Linked DNA regions of Homo sapiens: region 1 is linked to region 2. Evidence: fine-mapped expression QTL. Tissue or cell type: whole blood. Region 2 holds a variant in brackets; the other region holds the start of a gene. All regions are shown on one strand. Distances are from middle to middle.

Region 1 (11,054 bases), 190 kb after region 2:
TTAATGCCAGATGCTAGTAATAGAGAAAAGTGAGGTGAGGGAGACTAGGCATATGGGAACCCTACCCTCTGCTTGATTGTAAACCTGAAACTGCTCTAAAAAATAAAGTCTATTTTTTTTTAAAAAAAGCACTGGACAAACATTAAAGTGATCTTAATTCTACTCCCACTATTGTCAGATCTACAAAAACTTAAAAAATTTCAGTTCCTCCGGTCTACAAACTTTTCTATATCCATATTCATCCCTAGCTTCTTTAAGTCTCAAAATATTTCCCATTGCCTGCTCCCACTCAGTTCTCCCCTCTCGGGTATTCTCGAAGACTCTGAAAGTTATGCCACTCCTGTCTTCCCCACATTTTTAACCCCCGTCCTTCCCAGTCTATAAACTTAAGTTTCCCCCGTCTCCCAAAACAGACAAAACTATTTCCGAGACACCGAATTTCCCTCTATCATCCAATCTTCCGGTGCTTTTCAAAAAAGGTCTACACTGTTGCCTTGCCCCTGCCTTATTTTTTAAGAGATGGGGTCATGCTGTGTCGCCTAGGCTGGAGTGCTATGGCATGATCACAGCTCACTGCAGCCTTGAACTCCCGGGATCCAGCGATCCTCCCGCCTCAGTCTTCGGTGTGGCAGATTGTAGGCGTGCGCCACAGCATCCGGCCTGTGTTCGGCCCTGTTTGTGACTTCCCATTCACTCTCCAATGTGCTATGCTCTTGACTTCCAACTCTGACTACCCTACAGAATATGCTCAAATCACCCAATTCTTCCCAGCTCCGCAGTCAGTGGACTCACTGTGTCTGTGCAGCACTTGGCATTGCCTGTCACTCCTCCCTCCCTGAGATTCACTCCCTGGACACCACTCTCCTCCACTCCCGGAGGTGTGACTCTTTTGTAAGTATCCCCAACTCCCACACATATTAAATGTTGCAGTACCTCACGAGTCCCACCCTGTCCCAAACTCCAAGTCCTCTTAAGGACCTGTGTTCGAAGCCACCATTCTGTTGATAACCCCCAAATCTGCATCTCTAGCCTAGACTCCTTCCTGTGCCTGTCCCACAGGAACTCAGGCATTCAGTCAACGACCACTCCCCGCTTCTTGAAGAATCTACCCCAGCCCTCAGGTGCACCTAGACTGTTCCATCTGAACCAAGCCTCCAAGCCCTCCTCAGACTGAGGTTATCAGGTGGAAACATGACCCAGGCCAATCAGACTTTCCTCTCCTGAAAACTGGTAATTATGATCAAACTTTCTTGACGCTTAAGCTAGGAAACCATGTGTGAGAAATGGAGAAAGCCAGTCTGCAGAGCCAGGAATGAAGGAGACAGGAAGAAGGGAGTGCACCCAGCTCCTGGAGAAAGACAAGCAACTCCTGTGGTGGTGATACCTGCTATCTGGGTGTTTCTGACCTTTCTATTCTGTCAGACACGCCTATCCTTTCATAAACTTGTTTTTGTTTCTTTTTGTTTTGCCTACTAAGCTAGTTTTAGTCCATTTCTGTACTTGAAATCAGATGACCCCGTGATATTCTTCTATACACTACCAAGAAAAACATACCCCCAATTAAACTGCATCATGCTATCAGTGTGTATCCCGATGTCAGAAATATTTAAAGATAGAAATCAGTGTGACTTAAAAAAAAATTTCAGGCTGAGCGCAGTGGCTCATACCTGTAATCCCAGCACTTTGGGAGGCTGAGGCAGGCGGATCACCTGAGGTCGGGAGTTCGAGACCCGCCCGACCGACATGGAGAAACCCCATCTCTACTAAAAATACAAAATTAGCCAGACGTGGTGGTGCAGGCCTGTAATCCCAGCTACCCGGGAAGCTGAGGCAGGAGAATCGCTTGAACCCGGGAGGTGGAGGTTTGTGGTGAGCTGAGATCGCACCATTGCACTCCAGCCTGGGCAACACTGCGCTCCAGCGTGAGCGAAACTCCATCTCAAAAAAAAAAAAAAAATTCAACTTTTATTTTAGAGTTAGGGGGTACCTATGCACGTTTGTTACAAGAATATACTGCAGGACGCGGAGGTTTGGGGTGTGAATGATCCCATTACCCGGGGAGTGAGCACAGTTACCAACAGGTAGCTTCCCAGCCCTTGTCCCCGTCCCTCTCTTTCCCCCTCTAGTAGTCCCTGGTGTCTATCATCCCATCTTTATGTCCATGTGTAATCAATGTTTAGCTCCCCAAAGTGACTTTGAATCAATGTAATCCAATCTACATGTACTCCACACACCCCGCTCCACGAACCTGGAATGCCTTCTCGTCTTCCACCCATCCTAATTACACCCATCCTTCAGGACTAAGCTCCAAACAATTCTACTTTTTCTGAATCAGGACCAAGGGAAATTTAGAATGTAGCAATTACTCTATTGTTATTTAATTTTTAATTGCTTAAGTCTTATCTGCCCAACAAGATTATCAACTTCTTCAAGTCAGACTTGTCGTACACAGATCTATACAAATAATAAATACTAAAAGTATTTAATTTGAAAAAAGAAAAAGCTTATTCAAAGGTGGTAACCACTCCATTTTCCACTAAGCTCCAGAAAGGGAAGATTTCAAATAATAATTTAAGACATGAGAAAAGGGTCACTATAACTTCATTTTTCCAACAAGGGAAGGGACTTATGCGGCAGTCAAAGAGAATTCAGGAAAACAAGCATATGTAGGTGCTCAACATAATTAGTTGTCAGGAAACAAAATTAAAACCACAAAGAAACTACATCCTCACTAAAATTAAAGGACTTGCAATATCAAGTGTTGGCAAGGATGTGGAAACCTGGATACCTTCAGATGCTGTGGGCGTGCGACACGGGGAAACTGTGGCAGCGGTGTGCACAACAGCTGAACATGCGTATCATCTAGGACCCAGCACAAGAGTATTATGTGCACCAAAAGGCACACACAGCAAAGGTCTGTAAGAAAACAGAATCAGCCACGGTGCGTTCACACAAAGGGCAATGCCGTGCACCGAGGCGGATGGAGTCCACCTCTCAGACAGAAGCCAAGCCAAAGCAGCCGGGCACAAACGACAAGTGGTGAGTGGCTCCATGCCCCTGAAGTTCAACAGGTAACGCTCATCTACAGTAATGGAGGTCAGAAGGACAGTCACCTTTGTGGGGCTACAGACATACATGGCATAATGACCTCTCAGTCTGTCGACAACAGACCACATATACACCGTGGTCCCATAAGATTATAATTTGTATTTTTACTGTATCTACGTTTGGATGCACAGACACTCACCATTGCATGAAGAGCTGCCTACAGTATTCAGCACAGAAACACGCTGTCCAGGTGTGTAGCATAGGGGCAACGGGCTGTACCAAGCAGCTAGGTGTGCAGTGGGCAACACTGGCTATAGGTTTCTGTTAAGTGCACTCTAGGACGGTCCCACAACAACCAACTGGACTAGTGACAGCGTCCCCCTCTTTAAGTCACATATGACTGTAATGAATGGGTGAGAGTGCAGGGGAGCCTCTGGAATGCTGGGGATGGTCTTCCTTTGATGTGAGTGGTGTTCCATCTACAGGAGAGTGTCCATATGCAAAAATCCTTCAAGCTGTACATACAGCTGGCTCCCCACCCAGATTCCTTAACCAGGCCAGGGCACCCATGCCCCAGCTGCTGCCAGTTCCTACTAAGGGCTCTTTACTGCCACTCTCTCCCAGAAGAATGGCCCTCGGCTCAGGGTTAGCAGTGCCACACTCCCACCCTCATCCCGGAGGGGCAGCAGCCTGCAGCCACCAACCCCTCTGCCGCAATTAGGGCCAATTGTAGCATGCTCCTGGTGAGATGGGGTTAACGCTAGCCTCCAGCTGAGACGCCTTTTCCTTCCCTACCCAGCTTCCCTCTCGCCCTTCCTCCTCAATTTCACTTGCACAAGGATCTCTTTAGTGTTTGTGAACCTGACTGTATCTTAAGTTATACCTCAATAAAAAGAGTTTTGTTTTTAAAGGGGTGATTCTTTTACACAGCTCGTGCTATCTTCCCTTGAGATTCTGATCAACAGTTAAGAAATCTCACTCCCTCAGAGCAGAGATGCACTCCTTGGTGAAAAGGGACCAACATCCGTGGCCCGTGGGGTGTTCCTGCCTGCAACAGAGGCCGCGCGGCGCTGTGTAAATGGCATGGAGTCTCAGATGGTCTGCCACTAGCTTGCTGTGTGAATGGGCACTCCTTCAAATGTTCTGCAGCTCACCTTCCGAACTTGTAAGCAAGGCGATTTGGCCCTGAGATTCTCTGAAGTCTCTCCTAACTGTAGAAATCCTTTGATCTCATAAAACATTTTCATTAACGTGGAAGACCCTAAGTGCTACCACGACCACCCTTAACTGCACAGTACTTAGTTCTGGAGCACAAGTGACTTCCAAGCAATCACCATCACACGAACCTCAAAGCTGAAAAATTATCAGCACACTTCTCTCCCAACTCTTTACCCAGGTTCCCTTCTAACCTCAGAAACCACCAAACACAGCCCCACAGCACAATCTTAATAACAGCAGTTCCTCCTTGGCCTGCCAGCACCCACTCTGCGTTATGTGCCTACCTGGTGGTTGTGATATACAGAATATACTGATAGACAAGAAAAACTAGGTGAAGCATTTTAAAGAACATTTCAGAAATGATGGGAAGGGGTGGGAAGGGAGGGGCGGGAACAAGACCACACAGTGTTCAACGACTTAGCGGTTCCAGTGAACCAACTGATGCCCGTCTTCAGGGACAGACAGCTAGAAATTCTAGACTAGAACAGAGGCGTCATGGTTTGCCTACCCTTATCCTAAACAATTACCATGCGAACAACTTAATGTCGATCACAACAGATGTAAGTCCGGAGTCTCTCCACAGTTTCCAGGAGGCTGGTGGCAAATAATTGCCCTCGTCTTGGATTCAAACACGTGGCTATTCATGAGACGTTCTGCCTCTACTTTAGAGATTATCGACATCAGCAAATGCGTGCCGTTCACCTTCTACAACCGAAAACGCCCTTCAGGTGGCATTCGAAAAGCAGCCACTCCCTGATGCCATGCGGGAGCGAGCATGGAAAGCGCATTTCTGAAAGGAAACACCCAGAAAGGGTAAGTTCACCTTGGGTGGCACAAAGCGTGCCAGGGTTCACCGGCCTCCTGCATGGAAGGGAGCCACGGCCAGCGCGCCCGGGTCCCGAAGCGCAGTGGACAGGCAAGGCCCCCACGGGCGCGGCCTCGAGTTCCAGCCAGGGAGGCCCCGAGTCCAGTCCTAAGCCCCAGCCAGAGTCCTGGCCCCAAGTCTCGGCTCCGAGTCCAACCCCGAGTCCCGGCCGGAGCGGCCCCGAGATCCGGCGAGGAAGCCCCGAGTCCCCGCCAGGGAGGCCCCGAATCCAGCCCCAAGTCTCGGCCCCGAGTCCAGCCCCGAGTCCAGCCCCGAGTCCCAGCCCCGAGCCCCGGCCGCGCAGGCCCCGAGCCGAGGGCGCCCCGCCAGCCCGGCCCTCACCTTCCTGCTCGCGCCGCCAAGGGACACCTTGGGCCGCGTCTTGAAGTCGCCTTCGAAGCTGAACATCCTGGCAGCCTAGCCCATGTGCGGGCAGCGCCGCCGCGGAAGCAGCCGGGCGGGCGGGGCACGGGGCGGGCTGGGAGGCTCTCGGCGCCCGCCCGCCCGGCCCGGGGCAGCGAGGACGCGGCGGCCGGGAGGCGACCCGAGCCCGCCCCCGGGCTGTACCCTCCCAGCCCTGCCCTGGGGCGGGAGGGGCGGCAATACTGGAGGGGCGGCCCTGCCTCGCCTGCCCCTCATCCACGCCGGCCACAGCTCGGGCCGCTGCAGGGGCGCCCAGCGGGCAGCAAACCCGGCGCTTGCACCTGGAACTGCCGCCTCGGGAGGGAAGATGGCGGTCAGCCGTCAGTGCGTGCGCGGCCCTGCAGACGTGCGCGGCCCTGCAGACGTGCGCGGCCCTGCAGACGTGCGCGGCCCTGCAGACGTGCGCGGCCCTGCAGACGTGCGCGGCCCTGCAGACGTGCGCGGCCCTGCAGACGTGCGCGCCTCCGCCATTGACGGCACGGCGCTCTTCCCGGCGGTTCCGCTAGCGTGCGCGGCCCCGCAAGGCGCGCTGGAGCCTGGGGAGGACGGCGGTGACGCGGGCTGGGCACGCGGCGGAGTGGGCGGGGCCTGGTGCGTGCTGGGGGAGCGCGGCGAGGGGCGCGGGAGGTGTTGGGTGCGGGGCAGGGTGCGGGAAAGGTGGAGTGCGAGGCACGGGCCGGGATGGGGTGCAGGGCAGGGTGCGGGGTGCAGGGTGGGGTGCAGGGGCCGGCACCCGGAGCGGGCTGGGAGCGGCCAATCTGGTGCCAGACTCGAGTGAGGCGGGAAAGGAGCAGCTAGGCCCAGCCCGTCTGTTTACATCCCACCTGTTCTATGTCTATGACACGCACAGACGGACGTAAATATTTACCATGTACACAGACATGCGCAGATTTGCCTCATACATAGCACACATATGCATCTATAGATACAGCATCAATACATATAAATATGTATCATGTACACATACCTGTGTATGCAAAAATATTTGCTCCTGGACTTACCATGGGGCTTTGTCCTGATAAACCCATCGTAAGATGAAAATATTGTAAGTTGAAAATGTATTTAATGCTACAATAAACCCATCACAAAGTCAAAAAATTGTAAGTTGAGCCATTTTAAGTTGGGGACCACCTATACATAAACATGTGTCTTATATCCACACATACGTATACATAATATCTCATATACATGTGCATATACATATATATCATACACGATTGAAACCAATTTCTAAAAATTGATTTTTGGTTGTATACAAGGTGTGCAACATGATGATTTCATAGAGACATTGTGAAATGACTACCCTCTTTGTGTGTGTGTGGTAAGAGTACATAAAATCTACTCTCTTAGCAAAATTTCAACACACAATACGATATCATCTACAGTCGTCCTGCGGCCGAGCACGGTCGCTCACGCCGGTAATCCCAGCACTCTGGGAGGCCAAGGCGGGCGGATCACCTGAAGTGAAAAGTTCGAGACCAGCCTGGCCAACATGGTGAAACCCCATCTCTAATAAAATACAAAACTTAGGCCGGTGTGGTGGTGCACGCCTGTAGTCCAAGCTACTCTGGAGGCTAAGGCAGGAGAATTGCTTGAACCCAGGAGGCAGAGGTTGCAGTGAGCTGAGATCGTGTTATTGCACTCCGGCCTGGGCGACACAGAGACTCCGTCTCAAAAAAAAAAAAAAAAAAAGAAATACAGTCCTGGCGCCGCCTGTAATCCCAGCACTTTGGGAGGCTAAGGTGGGTGGATCACCTCAGGTCAGGAGTTTGAGACCAGCCTCGCCAACATGGGGAAACCCCGTCTCTACTAAAAGTACAAAAATTAGCTGAGCATGGTGGCATGTTTATGTATAGGTGGTCCCCCACTTAAAGTTCTTAAACTTCTAGCTGCTTGGGAGGCTGAGACAAGAGACTCGCTTGTGTCTGCGAGGCGGAGGTTGCAATGAGCTGAGATCGTGCCACTGTACTCCAGCCTGGGTGACAGAGTGAGACTCTGTCTCAAAAAATAAAAATAAACAGGCCGGGCGCGGTGGCTCACGCCTGTAATCCCAGCACTTTGGGAGGCCGAGGCGGGCAGATCACGAGGTCAGGAGATCGAGACCATCCTGGCTAACACAGTGAAACCCCGTCTCTACTAAAAATACCAAAAAAATTAGCCAGGCATAGTGGCAGGCGCCTGTAGTCCCAGCTACTTGGGAGGCTGAGGCAGGAGAATGGCGTGAACCCGGGAGGCGGAGCTTGCAGTGAGCCGAGATCGCGCCACTCGCGCCACTGCACTCCAGCCTGGGGAACAGAGGGAGACTCCGTCTCAAAATAAATAAATAAAAATAAAAATTAATAACAATAATAATAAACAGTCCTCCTGTGAACATTAGATCTGTGGGCATATTTATGCTACATAACTGCGAGTGTGTTTCCTTTTACATATCTCTCCCCATTTTTCCCAGCCCCAGGAAGCACCACTCTACTCTCTGTTTCTAGATAGGATTTGACTGTTGGATTCCACGTATAAGTGAGCTCATCAGTATCTTTCTCTCTGTCTCGCTTATTTAACTTGGCATCATGTCCTCCAGGTTCACACATGTAGCCAATGACAGGAATTCCTTCTGTATCTTGCTGTTATGAATAATGTTGCAATGAACTGAGAGGAGCTCCAGAAGAAACAATTTCATTTCCTGTAGATATATAACCAGCAGAGGGATCGCTGAGTCATGTGGTAGTTCCAGTTTTGTTTTTTTTGAGGAAACTCCATACTGTTTGCCATAATGGCTGTACCTCCAACGATGGGCAAAGGCTTCTATTTCCCCACACCCTCACCAACACTTGTCTTTTGGATAATAGCCATGCTAATACTGTGAGGTGATATTTCATTGTGGTTTTGTTTTGCATTTCCTTGACGGTTATTGACGATGAGCACCTTTTCATTACCTCTTGGCCGTTTTTATGTCTATTTGGAAAAATTCAGGCCCTTTGCTCGTTTTTTAATTGGGAAAAGCCAAATTTTAAAACTAATATTTGTCATTACTATGTGGAATGCACTGTTTTTTTTAAAAAAAATTCTGTCTTTTTATTTTATTTTATTATTATTTTTTTGAGACAGGGTCTCACTGTATTGCCCAGGCTGGAGTGCTGTGGTACGATCACAGCTAACTGCAGCCTCAACCTCCTGTGCTCAGGCAATTCTCCCAGTTCAGCGTCCCAAATGGCTGGACCAGGTGTGTGCCAGTAGCCTGGCTTTCCCCCCAACCCCCCAGCTTTCCCCCCCCCCCCACTTCTTGTAGAGGTGGGTCTCATTATGTTGCCCAGGCTGGTCTCAGATTCCTGGGCTCAAGAGATCCTCCTGCCTCGGCCTCCCAAAGTGCTGGGATTACAGGCATGAGCCACTGCACCCACTGTCGTCGTCTTCTTTTTAATGCTAGACGCAAAGCACTAAATACGTTTCACAATCCACTAATGGGTCTCAGCTCACAGTTTGAAAAAATCTGCCATATAAATTAAATATAGACAGATAGATGGTTAGAAAGATATACAAACACTCTACTGTTGTCTGAATGTTGGTGTCTCCCCAAAATCATAGTTTGAAACTTAGTCCCCAATGTGATCGTATTAAGAGGAGGGGCCATTAGGAAGTCTTATAGCATGAGGCTCCACCCCCATGAAGGAAATCAGTGCCCAAGGCAGCCTGTTTGTCCCTCCTGCCATGGGGAGACACAGCAAGAAGGCACCATCTATGAAGCAGAGTCCTCAGACGCAGAATGTGGGGTGCCTTGATCTTGGACTTCCCAGATTCCAGAGCTGTGAGAGATATATTTCTGTTGTCCAAAAATTACCCAGGCCAAGGCATTTTGTTATAGCAACCCAAATAGACTAAGGCACCCACACCCAGACACAAATGTGTGTGTGTATATATATGTGAACAAGGTCACAGTTCGTATATATGTATGAACTATCATAGTTCATACATATATTTGAACTGCAACAGTATAGAATGTATTTTTAATCATAAAATGTCCCAATTTTACCATTTTGAAAGCTTACAAATTTTGTCAATTAAAAAAGATATAACCTTTTGTTTTTACCTGTCAGGTTAGCAAAGATTTAAAATTGGTAATATCAATATTTGTGACCTCTGTAAGTCTGCTCTGAAGTCTCAGATTCTTTTTTTTTTTTTTTTTTTTTTGAGACAGAGTCTTGCTCTTGTTGCCCGGGTTGGAGTGCAATGGCGTGATCTTGGCTCACTGCAGCTTCCACCTCTCCACCTCCTGGGTTCAAGCGATTCTCCTGTCTCAGCATCCCGAGTAGCTGGGATTATAGGTGCGCTACCATGCCCGGCTAATTTTTGTGTTTTTAGTAGAGATGGGGTTTCACCACGTTGATCAGGCTGATCTTGGACTCCTGACCTCAGATGATCCGCCCGCCTTGGCCTCCCAAAGTGCTGGGATTACAGGCGTGAGCCACCGCGCCCAGCCTGAAGTCTGAGATTCTGCTTCGAATGAACCCTTCCAATGTCTGGACTAGGAGGAGGAGCAAGAATGCCCATGTGAATCTCACACCAACCTCAGTGTTGCTGGTAACTGGGGGGTGCTGTCCCACATCTGCTGGGCCTCTTTCAAATGTTCTGACCGGCCCACATGGGTAGGGAAGAAGTGCTCCTGACTGCACCTCTGCCCATCTCAACACCGCTGCCTGGCATCTGGTCTGTTTCCACAGTCAGCCCAGGGTGGGTGCTCCTCTGTGCTGAGGTCGGTGCGTCTGCTGGGTGGCCCTGCTCCATGAGCCACTTCTTCCCCTGGTGTCCACTGGAGAACCAGTGATGCCACAGGAAAATCTGTCTTATCAGGATCATTTCAGCATCTTTAACATGATTCCTAATGAAGGATTTTCAAGGATTTTAAAAGTACCTTTTTATAGAAAATTTCAAACTCAACAAGCCAGGGAGACTCATATAATCAATCAGTCTCCTTCAGCTATCGCCCAGCGTCAGTGAGTGCCCACCCCAGGGCCAATCTTATGTGATTAGACTCCCCTCCATCCCTTTGAAGCAAATTCCAGACGTCATTTTGTCAGTAACCCTTAAAAAGTGGAATTTTTGTACAAGATTATGATCTCATTATCACTCTACAAAGATTAATAATTTTCAAGAGTAATTTTCACTATAAAAGATTTTCAGGCTGGGCATGGTGGCTCACACCTGTAATCCCAGCACTTTGGGAGGCCAAGGTGGGTGGATTGCTTCCGCTCAGGAATTCAAGACCAGCCTGGGCCACATAGCAAGACCCCATTCTTAAAAAATAAATACAAAAATTAGCCAGGCATGGTGGCTATAGTCCCAGCTACTCGGAGGCTAAGGTGGGAACATCCCTTGAGCCTGGGAGGCAGAGATTGCAGTAAGCAGAGATTGCACCACTCCACACCAGCCTGGGGGACAGAGACAGACCCTGTCTCAAAAAAAAAAAAAAGAATTCCCAACCATAGGTGCTGACCTAGAACCTAATGCC
Region 2 (11,054 bases):
CCTGAGGTTGGGAGTTCGAGACCAGCCTGACACATGGAGAAACCCCGTCTCTACTAAAAATGCAAAAAAAATTAGCCAGGTGTGGTGGTGCATGCCTGTAATCCCATCTACTGCAGAGGCTGAGGCAGAATAATCGCTTGAACCCAGGAGGAGGAGGTTGCAGTGAGCGGAGATCACACCATTGCACTCCAGCCTGGGCAACAAGAGCGAAACTCTGTCTCAAGAAAAAAGAAAAATCCCTTTTTGTTACACCTTTCCTGAACTTCAGATCCTGTGGCATGCTGACACTGAATTCCGGGGGCCTGCTCAGCCACCTTCTGAACTAACAACGCTTATGAATTCGTGATCGTTTAAGCCTGGGAGATATTCAAGTAAAAGGCACTTTAACACTTGAATCACTTTTGGTTTAAAATAGCTCGTTAGTAATGAAAGAGTTGGAGAAATGCCACCCTGAATTATGCCATATTAGGATACTGATTACTAACTAGTTCACTGATTACCACATTAGTATGCCCTCAAACTGAGGGCACATGGGGACCTGCCAATGCAGGGAGGGGCATTCTGTGAATCCCCCATTATTTACATAAAGACAGATCATCCCAAAGGGACTCAATTGTCTTGACCCCCTCCCTGGAAGTCTCATCCAGGGAAGAATGAGCCAGGATCACGGGAGAAGAGCTTCAAGGGACGTCAGCTGCACACCCAGACAGATTTTGCCACAGGCCACCACCTATTCTGAAGGCAAAAAATCATTTTCTCTCCCCTGAGCTGCCTGCATCTGCCTCCCCTCTCTTCTATGAAGGGGCTGTATAAGCTTCCAGATCTCACTGGATTCTGGGATGCCCTAGTACATGTTATAGATTTGTATACTTTTTCTCTTACGAATCTGTCTATTGTCAGCTTAGTTCAGAGACTCAGTTGTGAAACCTTCAGAGAGTACAGGGAAAATTTTCCGTCTACACCTGCCTCATTTTAGACAACTGGAACACTTGGTTAATGGCTGTAATTGTTATACTTCAAAATGAAATACTGCCCTTTTTTTTTTTTTTTTTTTTTTTTTTTTGAGACAGGGTCTTGCTCTGTCACCCAGGCTGGAGTGCAGTGGTTCAATCATGGCTCACTGCAGCCTTAACCTCCTGGGCTCAAGCAGTCCTCCTGCCTCAGCCTCCCAAAGTGCTGGGATTACCAGCATGAGCCGCTGTGCTGGGCTCATTTTTTGTGTTTCTTAAACTTTAATTGTATTACTGCATGTCATTTCTAGCAAATGATCAGTTAGCAAAGGAAAATCTGACTGGATTCTCTATTCTTATTTGAGACTGAGTCTCTCTGTCTGTCCTCCAGGCTGGAGTGCAGTGGCACAATCTAGGGTCACTGCAACCTCCACCTCCCAGGTTTAAGTGATTCTCTTGTCTCAGCTTCCTGAGTAGCTGGAATTACAGGCATGAGCAACCATGCATGCCTAATTTTTTGTATTTTTAGTTGAGATGCGGTTTCACAATGTTGGCCAGGCTGGTCTCAAACTCCTGACCTTAGGTGATCCACCCACCTCAGCCTCCCAAAGTGCTGGGATTACAGGCATGAGCCACCAAGCCCAGCCTCTATTCTCTTTTTTTACTGGTTATATAAATGACTGTTCAAAAGGAAGAAATAATAGTTTGTGTTAGTATGGGCATCTCATAATAAAACCTAAAATAATCTCAGCAAAGACTGGAATTTCAGATATGTGCACAGCTTGGCACTGTCACATGTAACCTATCTGCTTGCAGATTGATGGAGGTTTAGTTCCATCTCAGTGTGGACAGACAGTACTATCATGGGACATTTTACATGTCAATACGTCCCTACAGTGATTGTGAGCTCATCTTGAAATGTAAGCAGCACAGACATGAATTTTACATTGTAAGTGGTAGGCTAGCCACAAATAGCTTTTCCCCCTTCGAAAAAGAAAATATATGTGTGTGTATGTGTGTGTGTGTATATATATATACACACACACACACACATTAAAACGCGTATCAGGCTGGTCACAGTGGTGCACACCTGTAATCCCAGCACTTTGGGAAGCTGAGGCAGGAGGATTGCTTGAACCTAGGAATTCCAGACCAGCCTAGGTAACACCGCAAGACCCCATTTCTACCAAAAATAAATTATTTTTTTCTGGCACTTTGGGAGGCCGAGGCGAGAAGATTGCTTGAGCTCAAGAGTTCGACAGCAGCCTGGGCAACTTGGTGAAACCCCATCTGTACAAAATATAGCAAAATTAGCCAAGTGCGGTGGCACACACCTATAGTCCCAACCACTCAGGCGGCTGAGGTGGGAGAATCACCTCAGCCCAGGGAGGTCCAGGCTTCAGTAGAGCACCACTGTACTCCAGTCTAGGCAACACAGACCCTGTCTCAAAAATAAATACATAGAAAATTATGACCAGGCACAGTGGCTCACGCCTATAATCCCAGCTCTTTGGGAGGCTGAGGTGGGCAGATTACAAGGTCAGGAGTTCGAGACCAGCCTGGCCAACATGGCGAAACCCCATGTCTACTAAAAGTACAAAAAATTAGCCCGGTGTCGTGGCACATGCCTATATTCCCAGCTACACAGGAGGCTGAGGCAGGAGAATTGCTTGAACCCGGGAGGCAGAGGTTGCAGTGAGCAGAGATCGTGCTTCTGCACTCTAGCCTGGGTGACAAAGCAAGACTCTGTCTCAGGAAAAAAAAAGAAAAAAGAAAATTTTCTGGGCATGGTGGCACACACCTATAGTCCCAGCTACTCAAGAGGCTGAGTAAGAGGACCACTTGAGCACTTGAGACTAGGAGGTCGAGGCTGCAGTGAACAGTGATCATGTCATGGCACTGCAGCCTGGGTGCCAGAGCAAGACTCTGTCTCTAAACAAATACATACATAATTTTTAAGAAGCATGTCAATACAATAAATTTTATCATGAAGAAAAGCAACCAGTACAAAACAAGGTCCCCATCCTGATGGACTTCACATAGCAGTTAGGGAGGACAGGTATAAACACCTTGGAGATTAAATGGTAATATTTAATTAACTCTTTTGAAACAACGAGGTCTTTCAATGACAAGGATTTATCCCAGAAAAGATTTAAGTAGGAGTGAAAAGTCTTTGGAGACCGAGTGCGGTGGCTCACGCCTATAATCCCAGCACTTTGGGAGGCCGAGGTGGGCAGATCCCCTGAGGTCAGGAGTTCAAGACCAGCCTGGTCAACATGGTGAAACCTGGTCTCTACTAAAAATACAAAAAGTAGCCGGGCGTGGTGGCGCATACCTGTAATCCCAGCTACTCGGGAGGCCGAGGCAGGAGGATCACTTGAACCTAGGAGGTGGAGGTCACGGTGAGATGATATCGTGCCATTGCACTCCAGCCTGGGCAACAGGAGTGAAACTCCGTCTCAAAAAATAAAAGAAAGAAAGGAGGAGCGTGGAGAATGTGGATGGATTTGGGGTAATGGCTTGCAGGGAGCCCCGGGGGTTGAGGGCAGCTGAAATGTTCAAGGCCAAAAGTGGACCGAGAAGCTTCATGGGCCAGCAAGCACAGAGGCTGCAGGGCAGAGGGAAGAGGACCCAGTGCTGACTGGGGCCAGACTGGAGGCTGAGTGGCCACAGGGGTGCGAGGCATGGTTCCCTGTGGTGCCCACATCCCCTGATGCCCAATAAAACTTTAGGGCTGATGACGCACTGACTTTACCCACATCAACAAGCCTCGGTTTCCCTATCTGTAAAATAGGAAGAAGGATAGCTACGGATAGCTACTATACTGGTATCAGAAATAAACAGGGCAGTGTATGAGAACTGTGGTATCTCACACACATACTTATTTAATGTTTCTCTAATGAAATCCCTGTGCTCAAACCCTCAGAGGAAAGTATGTAAATCAAAACTGTCAAAGAATACCTAAAATTTGATTACCTTTGAAGAGTCCTATATATAAGTGCTTTACTTGTTACGTTTCCTGCCATCAAAATAAATTACCCACTGCTCATTTTAGAAATGTTAGCTTTAAAAAAGACAAATATTGGCTTAATCCCTGATTATTCAAACACACTAAACAGGAACTTTCTCATGCCTATAATCCCAGCACTTTGGAAAACTGAGGTGGGAGGATGACTTGAGGCCAGGAGTAAGGAACTTTCACTGTATTACAGAATTATTCACATATATTCTTAGAAATCACTTTATCTTATCATCATCAAGATATATTGCTAAGTAAGAAAAAAAGGCAAGGTTTAAAACATTAGAACAGTGTGTATAGCAAGGAGAGAAAGAAAAAGAACATGCATTTGTATAAGAAACTCTGCAATTACACTTAAGACATTGGGGAGTGGGGCAGAAAATACAGAGAAGAGGGGGCTGAGGGTAAAATGATGTTCACTGAATATGTTTTAAACTATGTGAATATATTGCCTGTTAAACATATATATGCTTAATAAAAAATATCAAAATGGTATATATGTTTAATATGTTTTTAAAATATATATGTTTAATAAAAATATCAAAATATATATGTTTAATAGACATAAACGTATATATATACACACACGTTTTTTTTTTGAGACGAAGTCTTGCTCTATCGCCCAGGCTGGAGGGAAGTGGCATGATCTTAGCTCACTGCAACCTCCGCCTCCACGGTTCAAGTGGGTATAAGCAATACTGCCACCTCAGCCTCCCAAATAGCTGGGATTACAAGCATGCACCACCAAGCCCGGCTCATTTTTGTATTTTCAGTAGAGGTGGGGTTTAACCATGTTGGTCAGGCTGTTCTCAAACTCCTGACCTCAAGTGATCCACCTGCCTCAGCCTCCCAAAGTGCTGGGATTACAGGCATGAGCTACCACACTCAGCCTATTCTATTCTTTTAACTTTTCTTTAGCTTTAAAATTGTTTTGGCAGGTTCAGTGACTCATGCCAGCAATTTGGGAGGCCAAAGTGGGCGGATCACAAGGTCAGGAGTTTGAGACCAGTCTGGCCAACATAGTGAAACCCCATCTCTACTAAAAATACAAAAAATTAGCCAGGTGTGGTGGTGTGCACCTGTAATCCCAGCTACTCGGGAGGCTGAAGCAGGAGAATCTTGTGAACCCGGGCAGCGGAGGTTGCAGTGAGCCGAGATTGCGCCATTGCACTCCAGCCCGGGTGACAGTGTGACACTGTCTCAAAAAAAAAAAAAATTGTTTTTAGGCAGGGTGCAGTGGCTCATGCCTATAATCCCAGCACTTTGGGAGGCCAAGGTGGGTGGATCATTTGAGGTCAGGAGTTCGTGACCAGCCTGGCCAACGTGGCGAAACCCTGTCTCTACTAAAAATACAAAAATTAGCCAGGCATGGTAGCGCACACCTGTAATCCCAGCTACTCGGGAGGCTGAGGCAGGAAAATTGCTTGAACCTGGTGGGTGGAGGGTGCAGTGGACAGAGATGACACCACTGCACTCCAGCCTGGGTGACAGTGAGACTCTGTCTCAAACAAACAAAAGAAACAAACGAAAGAAACAAACAAAACTTTTTTTTAAGTTGCAGGGGTTGGGGATGGGCAAAAGAGCAGAAAACTGTTAGGGGTAAGTCCTGAGAAGCAGAGAAGGAAAGAGGAATTTTTTCTTTTTTTTTTTTTTTGAGACAGAGTCTCACCCTGTCACCCAGGCTGGAGTGCAGTGGCACGATCTCAGCTCACTGCATCCTCTGCCTCCCGGGTTCAAGTGATTCTGATTCTCCTGCATGAGCCTCTTGAGTAGCTGGGACTACAGGCACGTGCGCTACCACGCCTGGCTAATTTTTTTGTATCCTTAGTTTCACCATGTTGGCCAGGCTGGTCTCAAACTCCTGACCTCGTGATCCGCCCTCCTCGGCCTCCCAAAGTGCTGGGATTACAGG[C/T]ATGAGCCACCGCACCTGGCCGGGAATAGGAATTTTCACACACTGTCCTTTATACTTCTTGTTTGAACCTCGTGGCATGGGAATGTATTCACATATAGAATAAATAGACCAAGAGGAAATGTGGAGTAGAAAGGGCGAGACAGAAGCACCTGGTGCTGCGTCTCCACCTCCGGGGTTCCAGCGGGTATAAGCAATACTGCCACCTCAGCCTCCCAAATAGCTGGGATTACAAGCATGCACCACCACGCCTGGCTCATTTTTGTATTTTCAGTAGAGGCAGGGTTTCACCATGCTGGTCAGGCTGGTCAGCACGGGTCAGCACTCCCCGAAGGCTGGCCGCTGGTGGTGACAGATCCCGACTGTGGCAGGAGAGACTGTTGTGTCTGCGTGGCCTTGAAAGTGGGTCAGGCCGGGCTTTCATTGGCAGCTGGTGAGCAGCCTCACACTGCCTCAGGACACTGGATCAAAGATAAGTCAGGCTTCTCTAAACACGAGATGGGCCGTGAGTTTGCTTCTCAGCCTTGCATCCTCTGATTTCTTCGCAGATGGGTTTGTCTCACTTGAGTAGGGGAATTAGATACGAAACACCACTTCGACAAATTCAGCTAATGTGGGCAAGTCCAGCTCCCACACATCCACTACACCAGTTCCATGTAAACTCTCTGTGGCATTAAGCTCCCCATTCCTCCTTCCAGGAAAAGTGTGAGCTCCTGACAATAAGCAAGCACAGGGTCTGTGTCCCAGGAGGAATCCACAGGAGACTCTGTGTGCTCAGGAAACCTGCACACCATTAGAGAAAAAATAATACTGATGATGGGTGATAGTCACAGATCAAGTCACAATTTAATTTCGTGCTAGCTCTGCAAAGTCTTCTATATTCTCCATATATCATTCAGCATTACTTTAGAATAGCTGTGAAAAGAAACTACATACCGGGATCTAGAAACAAAAGAATGAGTTTGATGCCAAAAATTATTTGTAGGTTCTTATTAATCCCAATTGCTTTTTTACTTATTTTATTTTATTTTTTGAGGCAGAGTCTCGCTCTGTCACCCAGGCTGGAGTGCAGTGGCACAATCTCACTTCACTGCAACCTCCGCCTCCCAGGTTAAAGCGATTTCTCTGCCTCAGCCTCTGGAGTACCTGGGACTACAGGCACGTGCTACCATGCCCAGCTACTTTTTGTATTTTTAGTAGAGACAGGGTTTCACCATATTGGCCAGGCTGGTCCCAAACTCCTGACCTCAGGTGATCTGCCCAATTCAGCCTTCCAAAGTGTTGGGATTACAGGCCTGAGCCGCCACATCCAGCTGCTTTTTTTTTTAATTTTATTTTTTTGAGACAGAGTCTTGCTCTGTCACCCAGGCTGGAGTACAGTGGTGCAATCTCGGCTCACTGCAACCTCTACCTCCCAGGTTCAAGTGATTCTCATGCCTCAGCCTCCCGAGGATCTGGGATAACAGGCATGCGCCACCGCACTGGGCCAATTTTGTATTTTTAGTAGAGACAGGGTTTTGCCATGGTGGCCAGGCTGGTCTTGAACTCCTCACCTCAAGTGATCAACCCCCCTCGGCCTCCCAAAGTGCTGGGATTACAGGTGTGAACCACGTGCCCAGCCCCAATTGCTTTTCATTGATCCCTTTATGGCTGACTGGTATCATGGCAGTCACATCACCACTAGGCTCATTTAAATGACAAAAATATCCAAAAATGGTTTGGGGATTTAGTGTTTGTCTTGCTGAGCAATTGATCCGCATGCTCTTTGCAGCTACAGGGATGTTCTCAGCAGCAGCTCAATACATAAGCTTTATTTTATTTATTTATTTATTTATTTAGAGACAAGTCTTGCTCTGTTGCCCAGGCTGTAGTGCAGTGGTGCGATCTTGGCTCACTGCAACCTCCGCCTTCTGGGTTCAAGCGATTCTCCCGCCTAGGCCTCCCAAATAGCTGGGACTACAGGCGCGTGCCACCACGCCCTGCTAATTTTTTGTATTTTTAGTAGAGACAAGGTTTCATCATGTTAGCCAGGATGGTCTTGATCTCCTGACCTCGTGATCCTCTCGCCTCGGTCTCCCAAATTGCTGGGATTACAGGCGTGAGCCACCGCACCCAGCCAATAAATAAGCTTTAAATAATGAATCCCAAGGTTCTAGCGGGTGCCTTACAGAGCCTCTGAAGCAATGACTGAAGAGGCCACCTTGGATAAAATGAAACACTAACCCCAAGCGTGGCAAGGCTTGTCACCATCGTCACTGTGCCCACTTCAGAACAGGCATCACTCCTTCAGCCTGGCCAACCTGGCGAAACCTTCTCTCTACTAAAAATACAGCAATTAGCTGGGCGTAGTGGCACACACCTGTAATCCCAGCAGTTTGGGAGGCTGAGGCAGGTGGATCACCTGGGGTCAGGATTTCAAGACCAGCCTGGTTAACATGGCAAAACCTCATCTCTACTAAAAATACAAAACTTAGCTGGGGCCGGGCAAGGTGGCTCACACCTGTAATGCCAGCACTTTGGGAGGCTGAGGCGGGCTGATCACGAGGTCAGTAGATCAAGACCATCCTGGCTAATATGGTAAAACCCCATCTCTACTAAAAATAAAAAAATTAGCTGGGCATGGTGGCAGGCACCTATAATCCCAGCTACTCGGGAGGCTGAGGCAGGGGAATTGCTTGAACCCGGCAGGCAGAGGTTGCAGTGAGCCGAGGTCGCACCACTGCACCACTGTACTCCAACCTGGGCGACAGAGTGAGACTCCGTCTCAAAAAAATCAAACAAACAAAAAAAACTTAGCTGGGTGTGATGGCAATCCCAACTACTTGGGAGGATGAGGCAGGAGAATCACTTGAATACGGAAGGCGGAGGTTGCAATGAGCTGAGATTGCGCCACTGCGCTCCAGCCTGGGTGATACAGCAAGACTCCATCTCAAAAAAAAAAAGAAAAACTAACTAAAAAAACAAAACAAAAAATAGGCATCATCCCGTTCCCCAACCCAGAAGGAAGGAGACAGAAGAAAATCTTCTGGCCGGGCGTGGTGGCTCACCCCTGTAATCCCAGCACTTTGGGAGGCCGAGGTGGGCGGATCACGAGGTCAGGAGATCGAGACCAGCCTGGCTAACACAGTGAGACCCCATCTCTACTAAAAATACAAAAAATTAGCTGGGTGTGGTGGCGAGCACCTGTAGTCCCACCTCCTTGGGAAGCTGAGGCAGGAGATTGGCGTGAACCCGGAAGGTGGAGCTTGCAGTGAGCCGAGATTGTACCACTGCACTACAGCCTGGGTGACAGAACGAGATTCCATTTCAAAAAAAAAAAAAAGAAAATTTTTCCTTTTTTGAGACAAGGTCTCACTCTTCCCAGGCTGGAGTGCAGTGGCACGACCACAGCTCACTGTAGCCTTGACCTCCCAGGCTCAAGCAATCCTCCCACCTCAGCCTCCTGAGTAGCTGGACAAGCCTGGCTAATTTTTTATGTTTTTTTTTGTAGAGACATGGTCTCACTTTGTTGCCTAAACTGGTGTTGAACTCCTGGGCTCAATGAATCCACCCACCTCAGCCTCCCAAAATGTTGGGATTACAGGCGTGAGCCACTGTACCCAACAAGAAAATCTTAAAGTCAAACTGAAAGGCTGTCTCTCCCCAAGCCAACCGCACCCCACCCCACGCGACAGTCAGCCTAACATTGAATAGCTGAAGTTCCAGACTGTGGGTCAGGGGATCTGCACTGTACGCCATGGGACAAATTGACCTCGTTTTCTTTTTTTTTTTTTTTTTTTTGAGACGGAGTCTAGCTCTGTTGCCCAGGCTGGAGTGCAGCGGCTGGATCTCGGCTCACTGCAAGCTCCACCTCCCAGGTTCACGCCATTCTCCTGCCTCAGCCTCCCAAGTAGCTGGGACTACAGGTGCCCGCCACCATGCCCAGCTAATTTTTTTGTATTTTTTTTTAGTAGAGACAGGGTTTCACCGTGTTAGCCAAGATGGTCTTGATCTCCTGAACTCGTGATCCGCCCACCTTGGCCTCCCAAAGTGCTGGGATTACAGGTGTGAGCCACCGCACCTGGCCTTGACCTCGTTTTCTTTGAATGAATGCTAACAAACAGGGTAAGAGAAATTCAATGACCAGTGAAAACATTCATTGGTATCTCTGCTTCCATTGACCCACCATTGCCACACAGGACCCTGTACGGGTTTCTTCCCAGAGAGCCCTGGCGCTCCAGGAACTTCCGTTTGGTAGCCCTTCACTGGGGACATACACATTGGTTTCTGATGCTCACAGCGATTGCTTTCTTTTTCGTTTGCTTCTGCTCGCTGGGCACTTCTCTAATGAGTGCTTCTTCACTTCACATCATTACGGTTTGTCCGCTCTCCTCCAACCGCGAGACTCCTCCAAATCACCATGCATCATGTGTTTCTGTTACTATATGTTGTTCTTATGTTCTCATAATGCAAGGACATCAAATCTAGACATCATGCAATACCATGGACACATTACAATGAAACTCAGGGTTAAACCCTGCCTGGTACTTGAGAGCACCTAGTTAGAACCCTGTGTGGTTGTGCTTGAGACCTCAACTGTAGGAATTAGTTCACTGAGAAAAGTGGTTGTTGCTGCCTCTTTAAATTTTTAAGCATGGCTACTCTGGGAGTGCTGCCTTTGGGTTAGCCCTGCTTTATAAGGAGCAGTCAAAAGAAAAAAAGAAATTAAAAAGAAAAATCAGCTGGGCACGGTGGCTCACACCTGTAATCCCAGCACTTTGGGAGCCCAAGGTGGGTGGATCACCTGCGGTCAGGAGTTCGAGACTAGCCTGGCCAACATGGTGAAACTCCATCTCTACTAAAAATACAAAAATTAGCCGAGCACGGAGGCAGGTGCCTGTAATCCCAGCTACTGGGGAGGCTGAAGCAGGAGAATCACTTGAACCCAGGAGGCGGAGGTTGCAGTGAGCCAAGATCGCGCCATCGCAGTCCAGCCTGGGCGACAAGAGTGAGACTCCATCTAAAAAAAAAAAAAAAAAAAAAAAAAAATTAGGCATAATTTTCTTATCTCCAGCTTGATGACATTGGAATATTAAGAGTATCTCGGCTGGGTGCAGTGGCTCACTCCTGTAATCCCAGCACTTTGGGAGGCTGAGGCGGGTGGATCACCTGAGGTCAGGAGTTCAAGACCAGCCTG

The links.
Region 1: it holds the start of UBE3C, and the variant in region 2 is fine-mapped to the expression of UBE3C in whole blood (TOPMed, PIP above 0.99).

Annotation. Positions count from the first base shown.
Region 1 is chr7:157,133,758-157,144,811 of GRCh38, reverse strand. It overlaps UBE3C (ubiquitin protein ligase E3C), which reads right to left and starts at 5,886. Exons shown (of 23, transcript NM_014671.3): 1 at 5,474-5,886. The coding sequence starts at 5,539. RefSeq lists silencers at 5,255-5,324, 5,375-5,764, 6,045-6,394.
Region 2 is chr7:157,324,838-157,335,891 of GRCh38, reverse strand. No RefSeq gene overlaps it. Among named protein-coding and RNA genes, the nearest start is that of DNAJB6, 6.6 kb to the left of the region's middle. RefSeq lists an enhancer at 1,710-1,789. The variant C/T (reference allele first, on the strand shown) is at 5,882.